Linked DNA regions of Homo sapiens. The protein of the gene in region 2 purifies or fractionates together with the protein of the main gene of each other region. This does not show direct contact. Each region holds a gene or a part of one and is shown on either strand. Other genes may lie near its edges.

Evidence for each region. The genes of interacting proteins can lie anywhere in the genome.
Region 1: the proteins of TOR1A (region 2) and CANX purify together in Homo sapiens (affinity purification with mass spectrometry; 5 studies listed by BioGRID and IntAct, with this or other methods). This does not show direct contact.

Annotation. Positions count from the first base shown.
Region 1 is NC_000005.10:179,715,839-179,723,256, forward strand, and holds part of CANX (calnexin isoform d precursor), read left to right. Parts: intron 1-60; coding exon of another isoform or gene 61-162; intron 163-266; coding exon 267-456; intron 457-3,829; coding exon 3,830-3,943; intron 3,944-4,565; coding exon 4,566-4,722; intron 4,723-6,965; coding exon 6,966-7,181; intron 7,182-7,418. UniProt on the Homo sapiens protein: Calcium-binding protein that interacts with newly synthesized monoglucosylated glycoproteins in the endoplasmic reticulum. It may act in assisting protein assembly and/or in the retention within the ER of unassembled protein subunits.
Region 2 is NC_000009.12:129,813,814-129,821,231, forward strand, and holds part of TOR1A (torsin-1A precursor), read right to left. Parts: intron 5,108-7,418; coding exon 4,932-5,107; intron 4,835-4,931; coding exon 4,707-4,834; intron 410-4,706; coding exon 159-409; 3' UTR 1-158. UniProt on the Homo sapiens protein: Protein with chaperone functions important for the control of protein folding, processing, stability and localization as well as for the reduction of misfolded protein aggregates.

The sequences.
Region 1 (7,418 bases), on a different chromosome or scaffold from region 2:
TGTCTATAAGTCAAGTCTTTGGTGTTAAAGATTTTAACTATCATTTGCTGTAATTCTTAGAAAGCCGAGGGACTAATCATTTATGTTTCGTGCATAAGGAAATGGGCGTTAGCTTCCCCAAGACCCCAGGAGCCAGGCATTGTTCTTACCCCAAAGCCTCAGGTCAGACTTCTGCTGCTTCACGTTAGAAGTCATGATCTTTTGTATTATGGTAAAGGGAGCTTGGAAAATTAAGTACTTTTAATTCCATTTAATGTTTCTTTCAGTCTTGAATCCAGATAATAGTTTTGAAATACTGGTTGACCAATCTGTGGTGAATAGTGGAAATCTGCTCAATGACATGACTCCTCCTGTAAATCCTTCACGTGAAATTGAGGACCCAGAAGACCGGAAGCCCGAGGATTGGGATGAAAGACCAAAAATCCCAGATCCAGAAGCTGTCAAGCCAGATGACTGGTGAGTCTTGGGGAACTGTCTTCAAGTGTAAGGGAGCATTTCATATATTCCATGTGGCTTGAACAACGAAATGTTGGTTGAGTAAGCTCTGATAATTTCAGTAATCCATGATGCAGTCTAATCTGTAGGGAAAATATAGAGTACTATAGCTGGAAAGGGGCCATAGTGTAATCATCTGGATTGACTCACCATTTTACAAGCCACAGAATGCCACACTTGATAAGAGTTTGTCTGTGGTGACACTGTTGGTTTGTGGCAGAATCTCAGGTCCTTTAACCTGGCTACTCCAGGGCTTCTGTGAACTCACATTTAAAGCCAAAGTTCTGAAATGCTAAATTTTAATTTGAAAAATAACCTTTTTCCTATTTAAACAACAGTCAATTCTCTGCTGTGGGTTGGGTGGTAGAATACAAAGCCACAAGGACACCACCATCTGCCTACACAGAGCTTGAAGTCCAGTTGTGAGGCATGATGTTGGCATGTGGTATCGTAAGGGTTCATGAGAAGGTGCCACAGGAGACCAGAGCACCAGGTGTACCTAAACTAGGCATGGTTTCTTGGAGCAAGGCAAATCAGATTGAGACTTGGCAGTGAGGTGAGAATTAAGGAGTTGGTGAATATGGGAAGGGGTGTTTCTGATTGAAGAATGTCGTATGCAGAAGTAGAGGAGCAGCAATGAGCTTGACATGCGAGGGAGAAATTACATGGCCTTTTATGTAGGGTGCACATTGAAGAGTGAGGAGAAATGAAGATAGCTGGGGCTGTATTCTTGTATATGGCTGTCTTTGAACTTGCAACTTCACACAGTGACTCCAGAAATGTCAGAAAGTGAACAAAGAAATTCTTACCCTTTGTAAAATATCCTCCTATGCTTAGCAATTACATTCTAGATTATCTTTTTCCTCCTTGAAAGGTAAGATACATATAACTGAACTTTTGTACTGCACTAGTATAAATGCCAAGTTTACTTGTATATTTGGTGTATATTAGATTTGGACTTAGCCTTGTTCAGTATTATATTCCTTAACTAGCTTTATCACCTAAGAAGGCCCCTGTACCCATTAAGCGGCCACTCCCTGTTTCCTCCCCCAACTCCCAGCAACCACTAACCTGCTTTCTGCCTCTCTACATTTGTCCACTTTGTATATTTCATATAAAATGGAATCATACAGTATGTGGCTTTCTCTGTCCAGTTTCTTTCATTTAGCACAGTGTTTTCCAGGTTTATCTGTGTTGAAGCATGTATCAGTACTGCATTCCTTTTTATGATTGAATAAATTCTACTGTTTTGATAATGCCACATTTTATTTATCCATCCTTTGGTGGACATTTAGGTTGTTTGCTCCTTTTTGTCTGTGATTATGAATAATGCTGCTATGAATGTTCATGTACTGGTTTTTACATAAATATGTTTTTTCTTTTCTTGCTTTTTTTTTTTTGAGATGGAGTGTAGCTCTGTCGCCCAGGCTGGAGTGCAGTGGCGCCATCACGGCTCACTGCAACCTCTGTCTCCCGAGTTCAAGTGATTCTCCCGCCCTAGCCTCCCAAGTAGCTGGGATCACAAGCGCATGCCACCACACCCAGCTAATTTTTGTATTTTTAGTAGACACGGGGTTTTACCATGTTGGTCAGGCTGATCTCGATCTCCTGACCTCAGGTGATCTACCCGCCTCAGCCTCCCAAAGTGCTGGGATTGCAGGCGTGAGCCACCACACCTGGCCTCTTTTCTTTAGACATGATCTCTGTGTTGCCCAGGTGGGAGTACAGTGGTACGGTCACGGCTCACTGCAGCTTCCACTTTCTGGGGTCAAGCGATCCTCTCCCGCCTTAGCTTCTCAAGTAGCTGGGACTGCAGGTATGCACGCCTGGCTAATTTTTATGGGTTTTTTGTTTGTTTGTTGAGACAGAGTCTCGTTTTGTCACCCAGGCTGGAGTGCAGTGGCACGATCTCGTCTCATTGCAACCTCTGCCTCCCGGGTTCAAACGATTCTCGTGCCTCAGCATCCCAAGTAGCTGGGACTACAAGCGTGCACCACTGCACTCGTGCCTCACCCTCCAAGTAGCTGGGACTACAAGCGCGCACTACTACAAAAAATTCTTGTATTTTTAGTAGAGATGGGATTTCACCATGTTGGCCAGGATGGTCTCAAAATTCTGATGTCAAGTGATCTACCAGCCTCAGCCTCCCAAAGTGCTGGGATTACAGGCGTGTGCCACCGTGCCTGGCTGTGCATGTTTTTTCTTTTTTTTTGAGACGGAGCTTCGCTCTTGTCGCCCAGGCTGGAGTGTAGTGGCGTGATCTTGGCTCACCACAACCTCTGCCTCCCGGTTTCAAGTGATTCTCCTGCCTCAGCCTCCTGAGTAGCTGGGATTACAGGCATGTGCCACCACGCCCAGCTAATTTTGTATTTTTAGTAGAGATGGGGTTTCTCCATGTTGGTCAGGCTGGTCTCAAACTCCCGACCTCAGGTGATCTGCCCACCTTGGCCTCCCAAAGTGCTAGGATTACAGGCATGAGCCACTACACCTGGCTTAATTTTTGTATTTTTTGGTAGAGACAGGGTGTCGTCATATTGGTCAGGCCGGTCTTGAACTCCTGTCCTCAGGTGATCCACCCGCCTTGGCCTCCCAAAGTGCTGGGATTACAGGTGTGAGCCACCGCACCTGGCCTTGTGTATTTTTTTTTTTTTACTAGAGACTGGGTTTCACCTTGTTGCCCAGGCTGGTGTGGCCTCAAGTGATCCTCCTGCCTTGGCCTCCCAAAGTGCTGAGATTACAGGCATGAGCCACTCTGTCTAGCTATAGATATATATTTTCATTTCTCTTGGGTATATATACCTAAAAGTGGAATTGCTGGGTCATGTGGTAACTAACTTTTTGAGAAACTGCCAAACTGTTTTCCAAATGAGCAGTACCATTTTACTTTCCCACCAGCAGTGTATGAGGGTTTCAGTTTCTCTGCGTTCTTTCCAGCATTTGTTTTTATGAGTCTTTTTTATTAGAGCCAACTTGGTACTAAGTGGTATCGTTTTGATTTGCCATTTCCCTGATGGCTAATGATGTTAAGCATCTTTTCGTGTGCTTATTGTATGTTCATATTGTATATTTTTACATTCGTATGTCTTCTTTGGAGAAATGTCTATTAAAATCATTTGCCCATTTTTAAATTGGGTTGTCTTTATATTATTGAGTTGTAAAGAGTTATTTTACTAGGCCCTTAGCAGATATATGATTTACAAGTATTTTCTAAGAGGAATTATTTTAAATTTTGAGATTAAAAACAAATTTTTTTAGAATACTCTGTTCTGATCCACAAAGTGGTACTATACTGTGACCAGTGTTGTCATAACTGGCTTTTTCTTTTGTATTTAAGGGATGAAGATGCCCCTGCTAAGATTCCAGATGAAGAGGCCACAAAACCCGAAGGCTGGTTAGATGATGAGCCTGAGTACGTACCTGATCCAGACGCAGAGAAACCTGAGGATTGGTAAGAACTTCAGTTAACTTTTTTTAATTACCTGGTTTTTTTGTTTGTTTTTTTTTTTGAGATGGAGTCTCACTCTGTCTCCCAGGCTGGAGTTCAGTGGCGCAGTTTCGGCTCACTGCAACTTTCACCTCCTGGGTTCAAGTGATTCTCCTCCATCAGCCTTGCGAGTAGCTGGGATTACAGGTGTGTGCCACCACACCCGGCAAATTTTTGTATTTTTTGTATTTTTAGTAGAGACGGACTTTCACCGTGTTGGCCAGGCTGGTCTCAAAGTCCTGACCTCAAGTGATCTGTCTGCCTTGGCCTCCCAAAGTGCTGGGATTACAGGCGTGAGCCACCACACCCAGCATAAGTTACCTGTTTTTATTGAAGTCAATCTTAATACTTAAATATAGCCAAGTTCCCTAATTTCAGGGTAGAATTTGACAATTTTAATTATATTTTCTTCTTTTTTAAAAAATAAATTTTTCCTGAAAAACTGTTATTACTGGAAATACAGGAGAAGCTGGTCTGGGATACTGTGAAAACATTTCAGCAGGATCTTGGCAGCCCTGGGCCAGCCAGCTGTTCATAGTCCTGCATCACAGAACCTGTTTATAATTTGTTGTTTGTACCTCCGTAGGGATGAAGACATGGATGGAGAATGGGAGGCTCCTCAGATTGCCAACCCTAGATGTGAGTCAGCTCCTGGATGTGGTGTCTGGCAGCGACCTGTGATTGACAACCCCAATTATAAAGGCAAATGGAAGCCTCCTATGATTGACAATCCCAGTTACCAGGTTTGTGCCTCTTGATGGTTGAGTTGCTTTCATTAATCTGTTTGTATTCAGATAGAAGTTTTATCTAGAGTAAGGCTGCCAGGTTGGTCATTATATTCAAGCTGTTGAATTAAAAGCAGAAAGTAGACTTCCTAAGTTGAAAGAGAGCTTAATGGGTTAGGTATTGCAAAGATAAACCTAGAAACTGGAGTGAATAACTTTCTTTAACTTTATTTATTTATTTATTTATTTATTTATTTTTGAGATGGAGTTTCGCTCTTCTACCCAGGCTGGAGGGCAGTGGTGTGATGTCGCCTCACTGCAACCTCTGCCTTCCGGTTTCAAGCGATTCTCTTGCCTCAGACTCCCGAGTAGCTGGGATTACAGGTGCCTGCCACCACGCCTGGCTAATTTTTATATTTTTAGCAGAGATGGTGTTTCACCATGTTGGCCAGGCTGGTCTCGAACTCCTGACCTCGCGATCCGCCCACCTCAACCTCCTAAAGTGCTGGGATTACAGGCGTGAGCCACTGCATCTGGTCAACTTTCTTTTTTTGAGACTGAGTCTCACTCTAGTGGCCAGGCTGGAGTGCAATGGCTCAGTCTCGGCACACTGCCACCTCCACCTCCTGGGTTCAAGCAATTCTCCTGACTCAGCCTCCCGAGTAGCTGGGAGCACAGGTGTGCTCACAGGTGTGCTCACCTCACCTGGCTGATTTTTTGTATTTTTAGTAGAGACGGGGCTTCGCCATGTTGGCCAGGCTGGTCTCGAACTCCTGACCTCAGGTGATCCACCTGCCTTCGCCTTTCGAAGTCCTGGGGTTTCAGGCGGGAGCCACTGTGCCCAGCCAAGAATAACTTTCATAGTTGCTTTGTAACTATATTTAAAAACAAAAGAGAAATGGAAAACTGTTGATTTGGGTACCCTGCTCTTGGGTGCTAGGGTTGCTTCAGCCATAGGATCCACAGCTGAGTCTGGACAATCTGTGATGTGGTGGGTAGAGGACTGTGGTTTGAGTCAGCATCTTGACTACATCAAGTCAGCTCACTGCTTGGCCTCAATGCTTGCAACTATAAAAAGACTGAGGCCCAAAAGAGATGGTAAGGATACAAGTAGTAAGGTTGTGAGGCTTTAGGCCTCATGCAAAAATGTACACCCTCAGACCTTTGTTCCTTTTATCTTTCTAGCCAAGTAAAATTATTTATAATCTCTACAAAGAGTGGCAATTAAAATTATTTATAATCATTAATTTCTACTTTATTTATATACAAATACTAATATATGTATATACATATACAGAAACAGGAGAAGCTGGTCTGATACTGTGAAAACATTTCAGCAGGATCTTGGCATAGTATATGTATATATACATATACTAATATATGTTTTTCTGTTTGTAAATTTTTTATTTTTTTCCTCATAGTCGTTAAAGATGTTATGTGAATGTATTTTTAATTGTGTAGTCAAACAATAAGATAAAAGTTTTACTTTAAAAAAGTTGCCCTTTAGGCTGGGCGTAGTGGCTCACGCCTATAATCCCAGCACTTGAGAGGCTGAGGTGGGTGGATCACCTGAGGTCAGCCATTCGAGACCAGCCTGGCCAACATAGTGAAACACCATCTCTACTAAAAGCACAAAAATTGGCCTGGTATGGTGGCACACACCTGTAGTCCCAGCTGCTTAGGCACGAGGCTGAGGCACAAGGATCACTTGAACACAGGAGGCAGAAGTTACAGTGAAAAAGAAGTTGCCCTTTAGTTGTTCTCCTGTTGGTGGCCATTTAGGTGGATTGTCACTTTTGCTTTCAGAGTCACTGCTGCTGTAATAATCCTTGTACATGTCTGGGTGTATGTTGTGAGTATTTCTCTAGGTAGTTATCTAGAAGTGAATTGCTGGTTGATGATCATGTGCGTTTTATTTTAAATCACCACTGAAGAAGTACGTACTGACTTATGCTCCCACTCTCATTAGCAGTTGCTAAGAGTGGAGGCTGTTGAATGGGCCAGGAACTTGAGGGGTTGGTTTGGACCAAGGTCATGGGTGACAGTAGAAATTGGAAGTAGTTGGAATCCTGCAGTCTTAGAGGCAGAGTGCGTAAAATAATCTGTAGCATTTGTTATTTATTTTCCTGTTGCTTATTTCAAGTTTCATGAAGTTGGCATTTCTCTCCATTGTTCATGCAAAATTTCTCTTACGGTAGATTCACCATAAACTTTTGTTGATCATTATCTGAAATGATTTTCTGAAACATTTTTTTTTCTAGGGAATCTGGAAACCCAGGAAAATACCAAATCCAGATTTCTTTGAAGATCTGGAACCTTTCAGAATGACTCCTTTTAGTGCTATTGGTTTGGAGCTGTGGTCCATGACCTCTGACATTTTTTTTGACAACTTTATCATTTGTGCTGATCGAAGAATAGTTGATGATTGGGCCAATGATGGATGGGGCCTGAAGAAAGCTGCTGATGGGGCTGCTGAGGTTCGTGTTTGCTGCTTGTGCATTTGTGTCTGTTATTGTAAGGAGCTGTTATTTTGTGAAAGTCTGTGTTAAGGTTTTTTTTCTTCATTTGGCAATATTGGCATAAAAAGTATAACCATATGCCTGCAAAAGACACAATATTGGGTTTTGGGGCATGATTTCATTAGTCTAATGTAGTGGCTTTAGAGTCTGTTTGTGTTCAGGGTTTTTTTTTTATTATTTGTCTGGGTATATATT
Region 2 (7,418 bases):
GGGTGGAAACAATGCCAGGGAGAATTCCTGTCACATCAAACAGGAACATTCACTGGATTCCTCTTCCAGGGAAAGGAGCTGGGGGTGGAAGTGTGGAAGGACTGAGTGTTGTTTCTTTTCCAACTCCAGGCAGTGACTCCGGCTGCCAATCATGACTGTCAATCATCGTAGTAATAATCTAACTTGGTGAACACCGTTTTGCAGCCTTTATCTGAGAAAACTCTCTCCTCTTTGGGGAAAAATGTCATCTCCTCAGCCACTCTGCTTACAATGTCTTCATCAATTTCATAGCCTCGGGACTGCATTTCCACTCGGATACACATTTTTAGGTGTTTGTATTCCAGGGGGAGGAAGGGAACAAAATAATCAATGAGGTTCCGGTCAATTAAGCTGCTGTGCCAGAAGCCACCTGGGAAGAAGAAACAAGGTGCTGTTCATCCACATCCACCCACCTGCCCTATAGACGCCTCCTGGGGGTCACTTACCTACCCTCCCATCCGTCCCACAAACGTCTACTGGGGGTCACCTATCCATGCCACACACACCTACTGGGGGTCACCCACCCACCCCCCCCACATCTACTAGGGGTCACCCACCCTCCCATCCATCCCATACACACCTACTGGGTGTCATCCACCCTCCTATCCATCCCATACACATCTACTGGGTGTCATCCACCCTCCTATCCATCCCACACATACCTACTGGGTGTGCCCTCTCCCTTGTGGAGCTCCAGATCAGTGGGGAAGGCAGATGTTAACAGGCACCTGCACATTGTAATGCTTCTGTGACAGCAGAAGCTGTGACAGCCCTCTTTACACGGCGGGCTGGGGGAGGCCTCCCAAGGTATGACTTAAGAGATCGAAGATGGGAAAGAGGTCCTGGGGCCCAGGAACAAGCAGAGAGGCAGAGTGGGGAAGGCAGAGTTCCACAGAAAGCGGGAAGCAAGAAGAATTCCCGGGAAGGACTACCAGCCACGCCTCTGTATTTGGGAACTTTTTGACTCTCCCTGGAGTTTCAGCAGCTGGACTAGCAACAGGGAAGCCTGCTGCCGCTGCCACAGTGCCCAGACCCTGCAGAGCATGTGGGCACCAAAACTAGCCTGGAGAGTGCAGATGTGCAGCCCACGCTGGGCTCCCCGTGAAGGCCTGGCCTTGGCCGTGTTTTCTCCCCTGAATGCGGGCTGGCTCTGCACTGACCCGTCCACTCCTCCTGGGCTCCTGGAACTCCTGACCCAGGACACTTCCTCCCAGCCCCAGATGACACAGCACACACTGCGTCGCCCACGAGCCCATGCGTGTCTTCTACTGAGCTGATTCCCTTCTGGTCTGCCATGTAATTCTGGGGCTCCGTCCCCAACCCAAGCTCCTCCTCATTCACTGGGTTAATGCTTTTCATGCCCAACAGTGCTTTGCACACAACTGGTACTCAATAAATGTGTGGCTGACTGACAGAGTGGAGCCTATGGCCAGGGAAAGAACAGAACCAACCACTGAATGGGAACGAGGGGCTGTCTTGCTATCATGAACTCACGTGGGAGGCTGGTTCTCAGAGGCCTGCTCTGTGCCAGGCACGCCCTGGGCCTGGGGACACAGCTGAGGGCAGACGGACCTCACGGCTTTACCACTCTAGGGCAGGAAACAATCTCAGATGGTGCTTGGAGTGGCGAATGCCACACAGCAGAACGGACATGGAGAGCGGGAGGTGGAGCAGGCTGGGCAGGACCTCAGGGCAGAGCCCGAGCAACAAGGACCCAGCCACGCAGACCCAGGAGTGACGGCAGAACAGGTGACCTCAGGCAGCCCTGAGACTTCACAGTCATCTCCTGAGGACTCCCAAGTTTGCCCTCCTGGCCTGATGGCCTCCCTGGAGCTTCGTGGCTCTGCTCTGATGCCCTGATGCCATTGCCCACTGAGCTCGCCCGTCCTTCCTGCTGTCCCTTCCCTTCAATGGCAGTGCCACCCTTCCCATCGCTCAAGCCAGGTCCTTGATTCTTCTCTCATTCCCATATACAATTCTGCAGGAAGTCTTACAGGTTCTACCTTCAAAACACACCCAGAAGCCAACCGTGTCCCTCCACCCCCACCGCTTCCACGCTGGGCTCCCTGCCCCTGTGGCTGTGGGTCTGTCCTCCATCCAGTTGCCAGCAAGGTCCTGTGAAGGCCCCGTCAGATCACAGCACCACCTGCCCAGGACCCTCCAGGCCTCTCTCTTCCACTTGGAATAAGACTCAAGGTTCACCATGGCCCGCCAGGCTTCCCACGGTCTGCACCTCCACCCCAAATCTCGCCTCTTCTATCACCTCCCGTTTCCCTCCTCTGTTTATCCTCAACCAGTCACAGGGACCCCAAGCACAGGCCCCCCTCGGGCCCCTGGACGTGCTGTCCGCACTGGGGAATGCTTTTCCCTCAGACATCCACATGGCTCACTCCCCCGGGTCAGCCCAAATGCCACCCTCACAGGGAGCCTTCCCTGTCCACTCTATTAAAGCAGAGCCCATCCTTACCCTGAACCCCAAAGCCTTTCTTGATTTTTTTCCCCTACTGGCCCCGGGGGGAAAGATATCTATATGTCCACATGTGTACATGTGCGATGTGTGCATATGTACTGCATGTATACACACAAACACATCACACACATCAACATATCTATCCCCCATCATCTGATACATTTTCTTTCTTTATTATCACTAGGATGTAGGATTGATAAGGGCAAGAATTTCTGTGTTTGTTCACTGCTGTGTCCCCCGTCCTAGGTATGATGCCTGGCACTTACCAGATGCTCCATATACATGTGCTGAATCAATGTTCAGCCATCTGCCTGAGGTCACAGTCAGTCTGTGGGCCAGGGCTGCCCGACTCCCAGGTTGGCACTCCTAAGCACCGTGTAACCTCCACAGCGTGGATTCTAGGCCACGGGGCTCATCTGCCTCAGCATTAGGCTAAAGTTTCCACTGCATGTGCTCATGTTTTTTGGCAAGGCAAGAAACTATCCAACATGTTACAAAATACTTGTCTTTCCTCAGTAGTATTCCACTTGCACACACTGACATACTGTACCCCATGCTGTTCACTAACTGTAGGATTAATTTCTTGGCAAGTCTGTTTCAAATGAGCCCTTCTGTTTTGTCATCTCCAGAACCTGAAGCGCAAAGACTTGAACAGCCAGCCCTGCACAACTCACAGGTCTTAGCCAGTGAGTCAGCCTCCATCAGGCTGGCTTTCCACCTCCCCAGGTTCAAGGTCAAAGGTCTCATGACATTTGGAGAAGTAGTGAGCTAAAACTTAAAAGCTCAGGTTTTAGAATCAGAGATACCGAACAGGCTGCATGGCCCTGGGCAAGCTGCCACATCTCTGAGTCTCAGTCTCTACCCTGCGAGGTATGGTGAAGACTGAGTGAAATCCGCAGGCAGGCTGTTTCACACGGTGCCCAGTACAAAATAAGGGCCGAACCGCTATTTGGCTGTTGCTCTTGGGCAATGCAGAGAAAGGGAGGAACTAACAGGTCATCTCTCCCCCTGAGCTGCCCACGGCATCCTTCCTTGCTCAACCACTGGCTCTTTCTTCTACAAAGAAAATCATGTAGCTGAAGAAAATGGGGGAACTGGCCAGGCGTGGTGGCTCACGCCTGTAATCCCAGCACTTTGGGAGGCCGAGGCAGGCGGATCACGAGGTCAGGAGATAAGACCATCCTGGCTAACATGGTGAAACCCCGTTTCTACTAAAAATACAAAAAATTTGCCGAGTGTGGTGGCAGGTGCCTGTAGTCCCAGCTACTCGGCAGGCTGAGGCAGGAGAATGGTGTGAACCTGGGAGGCAGAGCTTGCAGTGAGCCGAGATCGCGCCACTGCACTCCAGCCTGGGCAACAGAGCGAGACTCCATCTCAAAAAAAAAAAAAAAACAGCAGGCCAGGTATGTAGCTCATGCCTATAATTCCAGCACTTTGGGAGGCTGAGGCGGGAGGATGACTTAAGTCCAGGAAGTCAAGACCAGCCTGGGAAACATAGGAAGACCCAGTCTCTACCAAAAAAAAAAAAAAAAAAAAAAAAAAAAATTAGCCAGGCATGGTGGCGCAAGCCTGTGGTTCCACCTACATGGGAAGCTGAGGCTGGAGGATCACTTGAGCCTAGGAAGTCAAGACTCCAGTGAGCTGAGATCACACCACTGGACTCCAGCCTGGGTGACAGAGTGAGACTCTGTCTCAAAAAATAAGCTGAGCACAGTGGCTCACGCCTGTAATCCCAGCACTTTGGGAGGCCGAGGTGGGCGGATCACCTGAGGTAAGAGTTCAAGACCAGCCTGGCCAACATGACAAAACCCCATCTCTACTAAAAATACAAATATTAGCTGGGCATGGTGTGCACCTGTAATCCCAGCTACTCAGGAGGCTGAGGCACAAGAATCGCTTGAGCCCGGGAGGCAGAGGTTGCAGTGAGGCAAGGTTACGCCACTGCACTCCAGCCTAGGTGACAGAGTAAAACTATCTGAAAAATAAAAATAAAACAGCACTTGTCAAACATTAGTGTTCATAAAAGTTACCTGGAGTTCATCAGCAAAGATTCCCCTCATGACTCGGAAGGGGACTGAGAATCTGCATTTCTTTCTACCCAGCTCCCAGGTGATGCTGACAGTGACCCTGATGCTTTTAACACTTAGGGTGCAGGATTAGGAACCAGATGGGACTGGCGGTGGATGGCCCTACTCACTGTTCTTGTTATTGAAAACCGACACAGACAACGCGTGTTCAATGTCTTTGAGCTTGATGTCTTCCCTCTGCTTTCCACTCCTCCAGAAATCCAAAGCCACATCTGTGATCCTTTCTGCTCCAGCATTGCTGCAAAACAATCCCAGTGGGTAAGGACAGGGTTTTCTCCTGGAGCTCAGAGGCTTGGGCTCGGGGCCCATCCATCATGTCCTAGCCCTGACCTTACCTGAGAAATATGAACATGGCTTTCTGGTAGGAGACCCCATCCACCAGGTCATAATAGTCGAGGAAAGGCTTGATGGCATCTATGAGGCCTGCATGCATCTTATCCATTTCATCAAATATGAAGATGGACCTCGCACAGGCACTCACGTTGCCTCGAATCCACAACTGTAACTGATCCTGAATTAAAAGGGGAAAAAGCGAACACAAAGTTCTCAGCCAGGGCCATCAATCAGCTCCTTCTACCACTAAGAACCGCAGCTTCACTTACAGACCACTGTGCACTCGGCACTAAGAACTTTACATGCCCAAAATCTTCTTTGTTCCTACCAACCCCATGGAGTGGGCACTATCGTTCTCATTTTACAGATGAGGGAACTGAGGCACAGAGAGCGCTTACTCCACTTGCCCAAGACTATATGTGGCAGAGCTGGGACCTGAACCCAGTCCTGTCTCACTCCAAAGCCCGATACTTTGGTTACGGTTCCCGCACTGCGAGATGCCACACGGATGCTGTCAGAGATGCTGCTCTTTTGTCATCAAAGGGGCAATGTGGGATGTCATGAGGATACTGATTTTTATTTAAAAAGGGGGTGGGGTCGGGCATGGTGGCTCACACCTGTAATCCCAGCACTTTGGGAGGCTGAGGCAGACGGATAAGTTGAGGTCAGGGGTTTGAGACCAGCCTGGCCAACATGGTGAAACCCCATCTCTATTAAAATACAAAAATTAGGGCCAGGCATGGTGGTTCATGCCTGTAATCCCAGCACTTTGGGAGGCCAAAGTGGGTGGATCACCTGAGGTCAGGAGTTCAAGACCAGCCTGGCCAACATGGTGAAACCTGGTCTCTACTAAAAAAAATACAAAAAAATTAGCTGGGTATGGTGGCAGGTGCTTATAGTCCCAGCTACTCAGGAGGCTGAGGTAGAATTGCATGAACCTGGGAGGCGGAGGTTGCGGTGAGCCAAGATCAAGCCATTGCACTCCAGCGTGGCGACAGAGCAAGACTCCATTAAAAAAAAAAATACAAAAATTAGCCAGGCATAGTGGCAGGCGCCTGTAATCCCAGGTACTTGGGAGGCTGAGGCTTGAGAATCGCTGGAACCTGGGAGGTGGAGGTTGCAGTGAGCTAAGATCACCCCACTGCACTCCAGCACTCCAGCCTGGGAGACAGAGCAAGACTCCGTCTCAAAAAAAAAAAATAATAATAATAATAAATAAATAAAATAAAATAAAATAAATAAATAAAATAAACAAGGATTCACTCAGACCTGTTAGGCTCCAGCAGCCAAGGTTTCTCACTCTGGTGACCAAACTTATATGCAATAACAGGGAACATGCACTGAGTGTTCACTATGGGAACAACAATATTCTAAGCACTGTTCATATAACTTTTTTTTTTTGACAGTCTCGCTCTGTTACCCAGACTGGAGTGCAATGACATGATCTCAGCTCACTGCAACCTCTGCCTCCCAGATTCAAGCGATTCCCTTGCCTCAGCCCCCTGAGTAGCTGAGACTACAGGCACCTGCCACCACGCCCAGCTAATTTTTGTATTTTTAGTAGAGATGGGGTTTCACCATCTTGGCCAGGCTGGTCTTGAACTCTTGACCTTGTGATCCACCCGCTTCGGCCTCCCAAAGTGCTGGGATTACAGGCGCGAGCCACCACACCTGGTCTGTTCATAGAACATTTTACTGTGACCTCCCAAAACCCATCACGGTAGTTACCATTGTGCTCCTTCTTTTACAAATGAGAAAACTGAGGCACAGACAAGTGAAGTAACTTTGCCCAAAGTCACAGTTATTGTTAGTGAAGCCTCAATTCTAAGATGATCAACTTATCCTGATTCGTCTAGAATGGTTCTTGTTTGTTTGGGACAGGGTCTCACTCCGTCACCCAGGCTGGACTGCAGTGGCTGTCTGCTCACTGCAGCCTCGACCTCCCAGGTTCAAGCCATCCTTCTGCCTCAGCCCCCTAAGTAGCTGGGACTACAGGTGCATGCCACCATGCCTGACTAATTTTTTTGTATTTTTTTAGTAGAGATGGGGTTTCACCATGTTCCCCAGGCTGGTCTGGAACTCTTGAGCTCAAGGGATCAGCCGGTTTTGGCTTCCCGTAGTGCTAGAATTATAGGCATGAGCCACCACACCCGTGGAACATTCGCATTTTAGTACAGAACCGCTGGACAGTGGGTGACCCACACGCTCACCCAGACAGAAGGGAAAAATGTGTTCACATTTTTCCATAGATACAGTCAGGGATAAATAACTGATTGAGGCCAGGCATGGTGGCTCATACCTGTAATTTCAGCACTTTGGGAAGTAGAGACAGCTGGATGACCTTGAGGTCAGGAGTTTGAGACCAGCCTGGCCAACAAGGTGAAACCCTGTCTCTATTAAAAATACAAAAATTAGCTGGGTGTGGTGGCAGGTGCCTGTAATACCAGCTACTTGGGAGGCTGAGGCAGCAGAATCACTTGAATCCGGGA